3 linked regions of the Homo sapiens genome follow. The protein of the gene in region 3 interacts with the protein of the main gene of each other region in a biochemical or structural test. Each region holds a gene or a part of one and is shown on either strand. Other genes may lie near its edges.

Region 1 (3,482 bases), on a different chromosome or scaffold from region 3:
GAGGTGCGGGCTTGTGCCATGTGTGAAACAGGGAAGCTTGGGGCTCAGTTTGAGTTTTTTCTTTTTTTTTTTTTTTTGTCCACTAAAAACACACTGATGGTCAACACAGGTCAAAACCAAGAGAGAATGTGTAGTTTTCAAGGTCTTGGCCAGAACCTTTAGGAAAGAAGACCTGTTTATACATTGAAGGAAGAAAAGAAGGAAGCAGTTGCCTTCCGGAGGGGGCTCTGAGAGAATCTAGCCTCCCCTCTGTCCTATTGGAGCAAAGATTGGAGTGAGTGTTGCCACCAACAGGATTTTATCGTTTGACTCCAATACCTGAAATTCTGACTTCTCTCCTGTGCTTCAATGAGAATGATAAATTATCCTAGCAAAGGGGCCTCTGGAGACCATCTTGTTCCAGCCTCTGAAGACAGTTGAGGAGATCAAGCCCAGCAATGGTGGCAGAATCTTACTCCACAGACTTCAGCAGACTAGTCATTTCAATACCCAAAGAAAGACAAGTGACAGGGGCAATGGATCTCAGGCTCTGAGATAAGTATATCAGATGACACTGGTGGCTCTAAGGATATTGCAATTAAGCAGCTACCTGTAGCCAGGTATTCTGCTGCTCTTGGCCTTTTCCCACGCATCGTCTCGTGTCTTCTCCGAAAGACCTTGGAAGATAGGCCTGGAAGAGACTGTTGATGCCACTTTGAAGAAAAGAACACTGAGAACTAGAGGAGGGAACACTTTGCCCAAGATTACTCACAAAGCCAAGACCCAGAGTCCAGCTTAGAGAATAGAGTTGTTCAGGCTGCCAATTGCAAGCTCATTCCTCTACCTCATACTTCCTCTGAGGATTTTGACAAAATGGATTAATTGGGTGAGCCTTGGAGACATGTGGGAAACACCTGCAGACACAAAATGAGTAGTCATCCTGTCTCCCTTTCAATAGGGATCTGAACAGGTGTTTTGATACTTGAAAGATGTGCATGTCAAGTGAGGGTTTCTTTCTGCGATGTTCAACTGGAACTCTCCCATCAGTAGTTACAATTAGAAATACCTACTGATGGTTAGTCTGAAGGCCATTCTCATGGTCACCTATACAGTGTGTTTCCCTGTGAGCTAGCAGACACAATGACCAGGAAAAAACCTATGAATTCCATTCTTAGGTTTCCCAGCCAATTGCTCCCTTCTGCTTTAGAAGTGACTAGGTACTGAGAGTACAAACACTCCCACTTTATAATGAAGGCGTCATGTCACCCCTTCCTTTACAGGTCCTGGGGTCCAGGAGACCCAGAATGAAGGTGTCAGTTGGGCATGAAGTGTTATTTAGTGTCCATTCTTGATCCTTCTGAGCACCTACAGCTGGAAACTAAGCAGATACTGGTCCTGCATTCTGACTGAGATTGTGTCTTCTTTATGAGGATAGATCAAATTGGCAGTCAGGCCCATGATAGTCAGTGCAGTTGGGGCAGTTGTAGACTTTGCTACAGGATTTCAGGGTTTCCAATCACCCCACAGGTAAGTGAATGCCAAAGTCTTCTTTTTTCAGACCATACAAGAAGTCATTTTGATTTTCAAAGAAGCCGTTTTGATTTTCAAAGAAGCAGGTTCTGGTGACATTATTTTCTTCCTTGGACAAAGTGGGGGGAAATTTCTAAGTATTTTAACTGAGTTCAGGGTCCTTAGTGAGCCTGGACAGAGCAAGGAGAGGGCTCCCCACTCCCTAAGCCCCACAGCCAGCTCTGCATCACCACACACAGCCAGAGCCTGTGAGGAGCTGCCTTCTTCCCCATGTGACTTGCAAAGAGTCTCAGGCAAGAAACCAGGGCTTCAAACTGCTAGTTCCCATGGAGGGTAGTTCCCTCGTGTGGAGCACTTGTGTTAGGATCACTGATTATCTGACAAAGGCTGGTGCAGAAAAAAAATTGTAGGCCCAAGTGTCAAGAACCACACCAGATTGGAGATAGAAAAGAATAGCTGAAATTATGTCAGTAGTGAAATGTCACTCCATTGACCCACCGAAAAAAGAAAAGAAATCTGTTTCTACCAAACATTTCCAGAAACGTATTTATAGCATGAAGAAACACACATGGGTAGTGTGACCTGTTTGGATGTGATTACTTAAAAATGGAATGCTCTGAATAGGCACTCTCTACATTAAAGGTATGGAAGGCGATAGGGGTCAGAATTTTAAAAATTTAATTTTGAAAAAGGTGACTCACCCCTCATTTCCAGAGTGTAGGCAATTATGTCCTGCTTTGATAAAACTGCTAGAGGATGGCTATGCAAAAGCATAACGATTCAAGGAAACAAAGTACAGGTAGTTTTTGAGCTGACAGCAGCAAAGGCACCATAAGTCAAAATATTGGTTTTGGTGGAGATGATCGATGTGTGTGTGTGAGAGAGAGCTATGTTTCTAACCAAGGGCCTAATGTTTGTTACAGAAATGATCCCAGAGACCTACAAGATGTGGGAATCAGCATAACAGGGCAATGCAGCAATTAACCCCACATCGTTTTCTGTAGTTCCTTTTTGTTTCATTTTCTTCTGTCTCACCTCGTTAGAAAATTCCTCCCAGTCAGGGGTCGTCCAGTGCAGGACGGGGGACCCAAGGGTCTCAAGCCTGCAAGTCCAGAAGGTGACAAACCCAGGAGCACTGGGAGTTAAGCTTTCCTTGGGGAGGGAAGAGCCTTGATGTCCAGCACACAGCCTGGCTATAAAGACACGAAGCGACCTACCCACTGTACAGTCCACTTCACAGGATCAGCTGAATCATGACCTTTAAAAGTTCCGAGTTGAAACTGAAGGCTCTCCTCAGACCTGGCTTTTTCCTCAGTCCCTGTTCATACCATCTCTGCACCCACAATCACACTGATTTTTCAAATTCATTTTGTTTTTGCTGTTTCATTTCTGGCATTAATAAAAGTCTTATAAGGAGAAATCGTGACTTAAGTTCTTTTTTATTTAACTGATGACATCCAATATAAATAAGGAACATGTTTTGAAAGCGGAATATTTGAAAATGGACTTCATAACCACTTTTACGTTGAAGTACAACAAACTTAACCTGATTCACGTGCATGTTATTTCACTGCAAACATTTGAGCAGGTGTCTGTAATCAGTACTGCTTCGGCTCAGCCAAACCATATCTTGTCATTTTCTTAATTTCTTCGTTGGAAACTCGCTTTGATAATTGACACTAAAATCAACTGCTCTCCCTGACACCATGTATAACATGACCTTCGTGATTACTTGCATGAGAAGGTAACTGCCCTACGCCTGCCTGCCCCAGCAGGCATCTCTTTTGCCACCACCTCCCTTTTCTCCATAGCTGAGTCTCCCAGATGCCCTGGGTGCTGGGTCAGTGGCATCTCGAGGCCGTGAAACAAGGAAAGGACAAAGAAAGTAGGGAGGGGGCGGGCTCAGGTTTGGGGGAAACAGGCCAAAGGCATAGAGAGAACAGGCCTGGGGGATCCTGGGACCTAGAGAAAGG
Region 2 (3,753 bases), on a different chromosome or scaffold from region 3:
CAGACAAATAGGCAATTACAGTGTTGATTTATGGGAGAGTCCTGAGGGGACCAGGTGGGAAGGAAATCTGATTACCATGTCTTTATGGAGGGGATTATGGAGTTGAAAATACCCAGAAGTCCTAACAAACTTACCTAGTGCGTTGTGTATCATCAGTCAACTTCCAATCCTTGTTAGAGCTGAGGCCAGTCCAATATGAATTCCCTGAACCACCATTTGGCAACAGTGAATTTAAGAAGTAGTAAGAGTGCTGAGGGGAGATTCAGAGAGACCAGAGATACATGGAGAGTGATGAGAAATATGGAAGAAAATGCACACCCTAGGGAGGCCTCAGCTTTGGCAAGGGGGCTGTATATATGACAGCTCTTTGGTAACTTGTCCCTGAATCCATCAAGTGCCACCCTGCAGATGCAGGCTCACTGCTAAATTTGCCTTCCAGCTGAGTAAGAATCTCTGCCAGCCTTTGGAGGGGAGTCATTCTGTGTGCTGTTCTGGCCCCAAGGAACTAATCCCTACAATCCAGCCCACCAGGTGTGGGACCTCTCTGCCTGAGAGGCCACAAGAGTCCAGGAACCTGTCAAGCAGCCCAGGGAGCTGACCAGCAAGCTGAGATGAGATACACATTAAAGTAGAGGCCGGGCGCAGTGGTTCACACCTATAATCCCAGCACTTTGGGAGACTGAAGCAGGTGGATCACCTGAGGCCAGGAGTTAGAGACCAGCCTGACCAATATGGTGAAACCCCGACTCTATTAAAAATACAAAAATTAGCTGGGCGTGGTGGCATGTGACTGTAGTCCCAGCTACTCAGGAGGCTGAGACGGGAGAATTGCATGAACCCAGGAGGCGGAGGTTGCAGTGAGCTGAGATTATGCAAGTGCACTCCAGCCTGGGTGACAGAGTGAGACTCTGTCTCAAAAAAAAAAAAATGTAGATATGGTTAAGTTTCCATTCTCATGCCAACTCTAATCAGTTACTAGGGGCTGCCTGGACCACTGTGCTGAGAAGATGCAGAGGTTGTTTCCAAGCTCAGAGGTCAAGAGTATTATGATTCTCAGTTTCTTCCATGGAAAAGGAATGGCCACCCCAGCCATGTGTGCACTGCCATTCCTGACTTGATGACATATGTCCCTTTACCTAATAGTACCCACTGCAGTCTGTGAGTAAGGATATGCTTACTGATTGTGGATAAATTTCACTGAATGTGGCCAGCTTGGAAGACAGAGTTTCACATTGTTTTTGGCTCTCCTGCCAATTTTTTGAAGTAAGTGAGATGTAAAAGCAGCTTTTCTGATGCATTATCCATCCCGACGGACAGCAGGTGTCTAAAAAGCAGAAAGAGTGTGATAGCAGCAACAGTTGGGATGAAAGTGACTACTCAGCAATCTTTTGCTAACAATATTCCCCCAGAGCTAATCTCAGCACCTTCATGGACTTCTATGATCTTTGCAATCTTTCTTTTGCATCCCCTGGAAACACCATACCTGTCCTTACTTAGTAAAAAGACTTTAACATTCAACAACATTACTTCTTAGCAATCTGGGAGGTCTGTCTTAATAGGGCTGATTTTATTACCCCAATTTCTGAACAATTGCAGTCCACCCTGACACTTTACCTAACATCTCTTGGGCCCATCTCCTCCACTCCCTAAAGCACCCCTCACTGCACATCCTCCACTCCTCCAGCACTGGCCCCCTCCGTCCCTCTCCAATTTCCTACAAGCAGAAAATGTTGTGTACTGTTTTGCAGAAACTGAGCTCTCTCCTTTTCCCTCCTCTCCACCTCAAAATTTCTCTTCTCTGTTCTTCTTTTCCTGACTATCCATAAGAAATAAATATCCCTCTTTCTTCAACATCCTACATCCCAATGTGCACTTCTGATCCCAGGCCACCTCTCTCCATTGCTTTGTTCCATCAGTCCTACCTTCATCACTCAAAAATCATTCCCTCTCCACTAGCTCCCTCTCTTCTCTCTACATATGCTCATGTCCCCACCCTGCTACTCCCTTGAGCTACTGTCCTATGGCAACTTAAAGGAATAAAAAGAAATCCCTGCTGGGCACAATGGCTCACTTCTGTAATCCCAGCACTTTGGGAGGCCGAGGCGGGGTGGATCACCTGAAGTCAGGAGTTTAAGACCAGCCTGGTCAACATGGTGAAACCCCACCTCTACTAAAAATACCAAAAAATACCCAGGCACCATGGCGCATGCCTATAATCCCAGTTACTCGGGAGGCTGAGGCAAAAGGATAGCTTGAATCCAGGAGGCAGAGGTTGCAGTGAGCCCAGATCACACCACTGCACTCCAGCCTGGGAGTGCACTTCAGTCTCACAGAGCGAGACTCCGCCTCAAAAAAAAAAAAAAAGAAATCTGTATGGCCAAATGGAAGAGGGTGAGGAGATAAGTGGCACACTGAAAGGTAGGCAGGAGTGATGGAAGCCATGTTAAGGATTTTTATTTTTATATTATGAGGAAGAGAAAGTCAGTGTAGGGTTTTACATAGAGGAATTTTGTTCACTAGCTATATCCCAAGTGCCTGGGCACAGTGCTAGAACATATTATATGTTATGTATTCCATAACTGTTTATGTAATCAATTAACTGGAATGCTGTAGATTGGGTGACACGATCAGATTTTTGTTTGTAAAAGATTACCCTGGCTCCAATATGAAGAATGGACTGCAGGGAGAGGAGTGAGTAGGAAAAACATTTAGAAAGCTGTTGCAGATATCCTTGCAAAAGATGAGGATGGGCAAAAATCCATATGGATATATAGACTTGGTGATGGAAAGTGAAGGGAATTCCTCTCTGAAAGAGTGGAAGATGAGGACATCTGCTGAAAGTGAGGGAGAAGGAGTTACTATGGAGAGCAAGCTGACCATTGCAAAGGTTGCCAGGCAGTGCTGAGAGACTAGAGTCTCAGTGGCACTGAGCAGAATGATTCCACAATTTGTCACACCTTGATGCTGACCATGGGCAGTTGGGTTCATCCAGAGTTCAAATTTTGCCCATCAGGTACACTAGAAGGATAATGGAACAAAGAAGTGAGTGAGCCAGGTGCGGTGGCTCACGACTGTAATCTCAGCACTTTGGGAGGCTGAGGCAGGAGGATCGCTTGAGTCCAGGAGTTCGATACCGGCCAGGGAAACATAGTGAGACCTTGTCTCTATTTAAAAAAATAAGTGAGTAGTTGAAGTGATGGGCTCCAAACCCATGTTAGGTAGGGAGAGAAGTGTGGACAGGAGAAGCTGATGGGAAGAGAGAAAAAGGGGAATCAGTTGATTGGAGGCCTGGACTGATGGGAAGGGAGAAAAAGGGGAGTCAGCAGATTGGAGGCCTTGATGAGATCAAAAAAGTGTGGGGAAAACCTGCAGGAGTGGTGGGCAGCTGTGATCAGAGTGGAAGTCTGAAACCATCCTTTCGCCGGAAGAGCAATTTGGGAGGTAGAGGTCTAACATGCTGCTAAGAGCAGCCCTGGCATGGAACTGATGGTCACAGAGGGTAAGGTTAAGGAAATGAGGGCAAGGGGTGTCTGCACATAATCTTGCTGTCTTATGCCTGGGGAGATCACCCAGATGACCCCCAAGCTAGACAGAGCCTAAACCTGATCATAGCCCAAAAACACCCCAGTCCCCTTAGGCGTGGCACCTTGCCTAGACCCTCAGCCTGTTTTGATACAGCCTTGCCTCTTTTATGTGTCCCTTTCCCCATCTCCACTTACTGGCTGGGGTCCTGCTTTCAAAATGAATGGACAC
Region 3 (3,753 bases):
TAACTGCGTCTGTGAAGTAGCTCCACTTGAGACTATGATTGGGGTTCAGTTTTCCTCCTCAATTAATATCTTGCTCTTAAAAGACAGTGACATCCACAAGATATGTAGCACAAACTACAGACAAGTGTCCTTCAGATTAACTGAACCATCATTATTTTCCAAATTAATCCCTAAGTTTTTAACTATTTGGCAAGCATGTAACCAATTTGTTGGGCTGACTTAAGGGTGCTGACTTTAAGTAAATGAAAATACCAATTATTAAATGAAAAGCCAATTTTTGAAAAATGTCCGTATAAGATAATATGTGGTAAAATTATTTTTTTCATAAATATACTACAAGTTGAAGCTGAAAGCATGCTACCCTGCAAACATAATTAAAGTTGAGAGTTAGGATTAGATTTGGGTGATTTATTTGAAATGTGAGGCAAGTCCAATATCCTTTTGTTATTAAAGAGAACTTGGCTGTGGCTCCTACTTAACAAATTTTGGCAAACTGAATGCTGTCTTGATCCCCTCCATGCTAAATTTATTTATTGAGTTGCTTGCAGAAATTTCCTTAGCTTCTATATTAGTTGGCAAGGGCTGCCATAACAATACAACACACTGGGTAATTTAAACAACAGACGTTTATTTTTCCGGGGTTCTGGAGTTTCAAAGTCCAAGGTCAAGGTGCTAGCCAGGTTGATTTCTCCTGAGGCCTCTCTCCTGGACTTGTAGATGGCTGCCTCCTCCCTGTGTCTTCACATGGTCTTTCCCCTATACTAGTCTGTGTTCTAATCTCCTCTTATAAGGATACTAGTCATATTGGATTAAGACCTACCCAAATGGCCTCATTTTAACTTAGTTACCTCTATAAAGGCCTTATCTCTAAATATGGTGCTGTCAATTCTGAGGTGTACGCGGGGTTAGGACTTCAACCTAGGAATTTTGGGAGGATGCTGTTCAACCCCTAACAGCCTCAGTAAAGCTTGTTTCAATCATGGTTACAGGATGTGAGGAGCAAAAAGACCACTGCAGTGCTTGACCCTCTGCCAGGTTTCTAAACGGCATGGGTTTCTGTTCTTTTTGTTTTTTTCCACCCTAGGGAGAACTAATGCCGACGTGATGACCGCCCTGTCCCAGGGCTACAGGATGCCCCGTGTGGAGAACTGCCCAGATGAGCTCTATGACATTATGAAAATGTGCTGGAAAGAAAAGGCAGAAGAGAGACCAACGTTTGACTACTTACAGAGCGTCCTGGATGATTTCTACACAGCCACGGAAGGGCAATACCAGCAGCAGCCTTAGAGCACAGGGAGACCCGTCCATTTGGCAGGGGTGGCTGCCTCATTTAGAGAGGAAAAGTAACCATCACTGGTTGCACTTATGATTTCATGTGCGGGGATCATCTGCCGTGCCTGGATCCTGAAATAGAGGCTAAATTACTCAGGAAGAACACCCTCTAAATGGGAAAGTATTCTGTACTCTTAGATGGATTCTCCACTCAGTTGCAACTTGGACTTGTCCTCAGCAGCTGGTAATCTTGCTCTGCTTGACAACATCTGAGTGCAGCCGTTTGAGAAGAAAACATCTATTCTCTCCAAAAATGCACCCAACTAGCTCTATGTTTACAAATGGACATAGGACTCAAAGTTTCAGAGACCATTGCAATGAATCCCCAATAATTGCAGAACTAAACTCATTTATAAAGCTAAAATAACCGGATATATACATAGCATGACATTTCTTTGTGCTTTGGCTTACTTGTTTAAAAAAAAAAAAAAACTAATCCAACCTGTTAGATTTTGCAGGTGAAGTCAGCAGCTTAAAAATGTCTTTCCCAGATTTCAATGATTTTTTTCCCCCTACCTCCCAAAATCTGAGACTGTTAAAACATTTTTCTTCTATGAACACTGCTCAGACCTGCTAGACATGCCATAGGAGTGGCGTGCACATCTCTCTCTCTTCCAGCAGGAGGAGCCCGTGAGCACGCACAGCTGCCCTGTCTGCTCACCCGAAGGCACCGGGCTCACCTGGACCTCCCAGGAAAGGGAGAAGAGCCTCAGAAACTGCTCTGTGTTTAGAAGGAATATTTTTAAGAGTCCAGCTTTTTCATTTCCACAATTTCCTATATCCAGATTTGTTTTGACAATGTAGTTTGGAAGAACTAAGATTCTAATCTCTGAAGAACCTTATAGGGCCTTCTAAAACATAAGAGTTTCCTTTGTTGCTTCAAATATTTGAACATTATGTTAAAGATCAAGTATTAATTTTAGTTGTACTCTAGAAAGCTAAAGTGCCACATTCGGGGCTATTTTTATGATTCAGCAATCTTTTCTAAATTGTGTAGCATGTGTATGAGACTATTTATACCCAAGGATATGAAGGAACATAAGTGACTACAAGGCTCTAATAAGCCACGGTGGCAGGAGGTTCAAGCGGTTCTGTTCACTAAATTTTTCTCCTGTAAGCTTTGAATGGAAACTTCTGTATCACATGATGTGTTTCACTTATGCTGTTGTGTATATACCTAATATTTCTATTTTTGATTTTATTTTAATACACCTCGTCCAATAACATCTCAAGCTTTTTATTTGCATTTACATTTTCAGCTGTGGTCAGTGTAAAAATTGGTCATCAGCTGGGGGCGGGGTGGTTAGAAGTGATTCAACAGAGCTACATGCTTTAAACTTGCCCAAGTTCTACCTCCTTCCTTTGAACATTTCAGATTGGAGAACCAAGGAGTTGATTGCCTGAACACCTGAACATCCGTTTATGGGGGCCAGATAGAATTTGTTTTCAAATAGGCTTAACAGGCATCATTAAAATTTCATTCTGTGTGTTTTGTTTAGGCTTGAGGTGCTTAGAAGATGGGATAAAATATTCTACTTTTTTCTAAATTTTAACTTTGTTTCCTATGTGATTTTTTTAAATGTCCTTTCTAAAATATTCTAAAATTATTGATTCACAAGTGCCATGTTCAGAACTATAGAATATTACTGTTACATAATGTCTGCACAGCTGGTCCCTTGATTCAGTGGTAAGGTTTTTGTGTACACCCCCCTGCTTGCATTTTATTTCAGAACCACAAGTATTACCCAATATGTTACATGGAGAGGAACTATAAAGAATCCCTAAGGCAAAAAGAAGTCTCTAGAAAATGACTAGAGGTTTTTTTTTTAGCATAACAAATTTATTTAAAGAAAATTATTAAATTTATCTTCGCCTTGTTTTGCTTCTCCCAGTTCCTCCTCTTCTTGCCATTTTCCACTTGTCTTTCCCTCCCAATCAAGCCTGTGATCCTTACCTCCATGTGGGCCCTTCACCAGCTTGGGCCTCATCTCTGGTGTCCAGCATGTGTGGAAGTCACACGTTCCCTTGATGAACAGCACACACAGTCTCCTTACTTAGCTATAGGTTTCCAGCCTCCCTGTGACAGACAGGCATAATGAGGGGCTGAATAGGTGTTTGTAGCATTTTCGGGTATCCAGTGGTGTGCAAAATGGCTCATGTCATCACACCTCAGGTTATTGTAGAGAACTGGAAAGACAGAATCCATACTCCCTACCGCCAAGATTCTGACTTAGCTGTTGTGCAGCGGGAGATGTATGTCAGTCTATTTTAAAAGCTTCTCCAGTCAGCTAGACACAGTGGCTCATGCCTGTAATCTCAGCACTTTGGGAGGCTAAGGCAGGAGGATCGCTTGAGCTCAGGAGTTAGACACCAGCCTGAGCAATATAGCAAGTCTCTACAAAAAATTTTAAAAATTAGCTA

What was found.
Region 1: the proteins of LYN (region 3) and GAB3 form a complex in vitro, tested with the Homo sapiens proteins (one study listed by BioGRID).
Region 2: of the proteins of LYN (region 3) and CD72, one has a biochemical effect on the other in vitro, tested with the Homo sapiens proteins (one study listed by BioGRID).

Annotation. Positions count from the first base shown.
Region 1 is NC_000023.11:154,674,696-154,678,177, reverse strand, and holds the end of GAB3 (GRB2-associated-binding protein 3), read left to right. Parts: 3' UTR 1-109; coding exon of another isoform or gene 110-187; 3' UTR 188-2,432; coding exon of another isoform or gene 2,433-2,438; 3' UTR 2,439-2,929; downstream 2,930-3,482.
Region 2 is NC_000009.12:35,611,670-35,615,422, forward strand, and holds part of CD72 (B-cell differentiation antigen CD72), read right to left. Parts: intron 1,325-3,753; coding exon 1,179-1,324; intron 251-1,178; coding exon 135-250; intron 1-134. UniProt on the Homo sapiens protein: Co-receptor of B cell receptor (BCR) that plays both positive and negative roles on B-cell functions. Recognizes the Sm/ribonucleoprotein (RNP) self-antigen ligand, and coligation of CD72 and BCR inhibits BCR signaling.
Region 3 is NC_000008.11:56,008,824-56,012,576, forward strand, and holds part of LYN (tyrosine-protein kinase Lyn), read left to right. Parts: intron 1-1,084; coding exon 1,085-1,287; 3' UTR 1,288-3,753. UniProt on the Homo sapiens protein: Non-receptor tyrosine-protein kinase that transmits signals from cell surface receptors and plays an important role in the regulation of innate and adaptive immune responses, hematopoiesis, responses to growth factors and cytokines, integrin signaling, but also responses to DNA damage and genotoxic agents.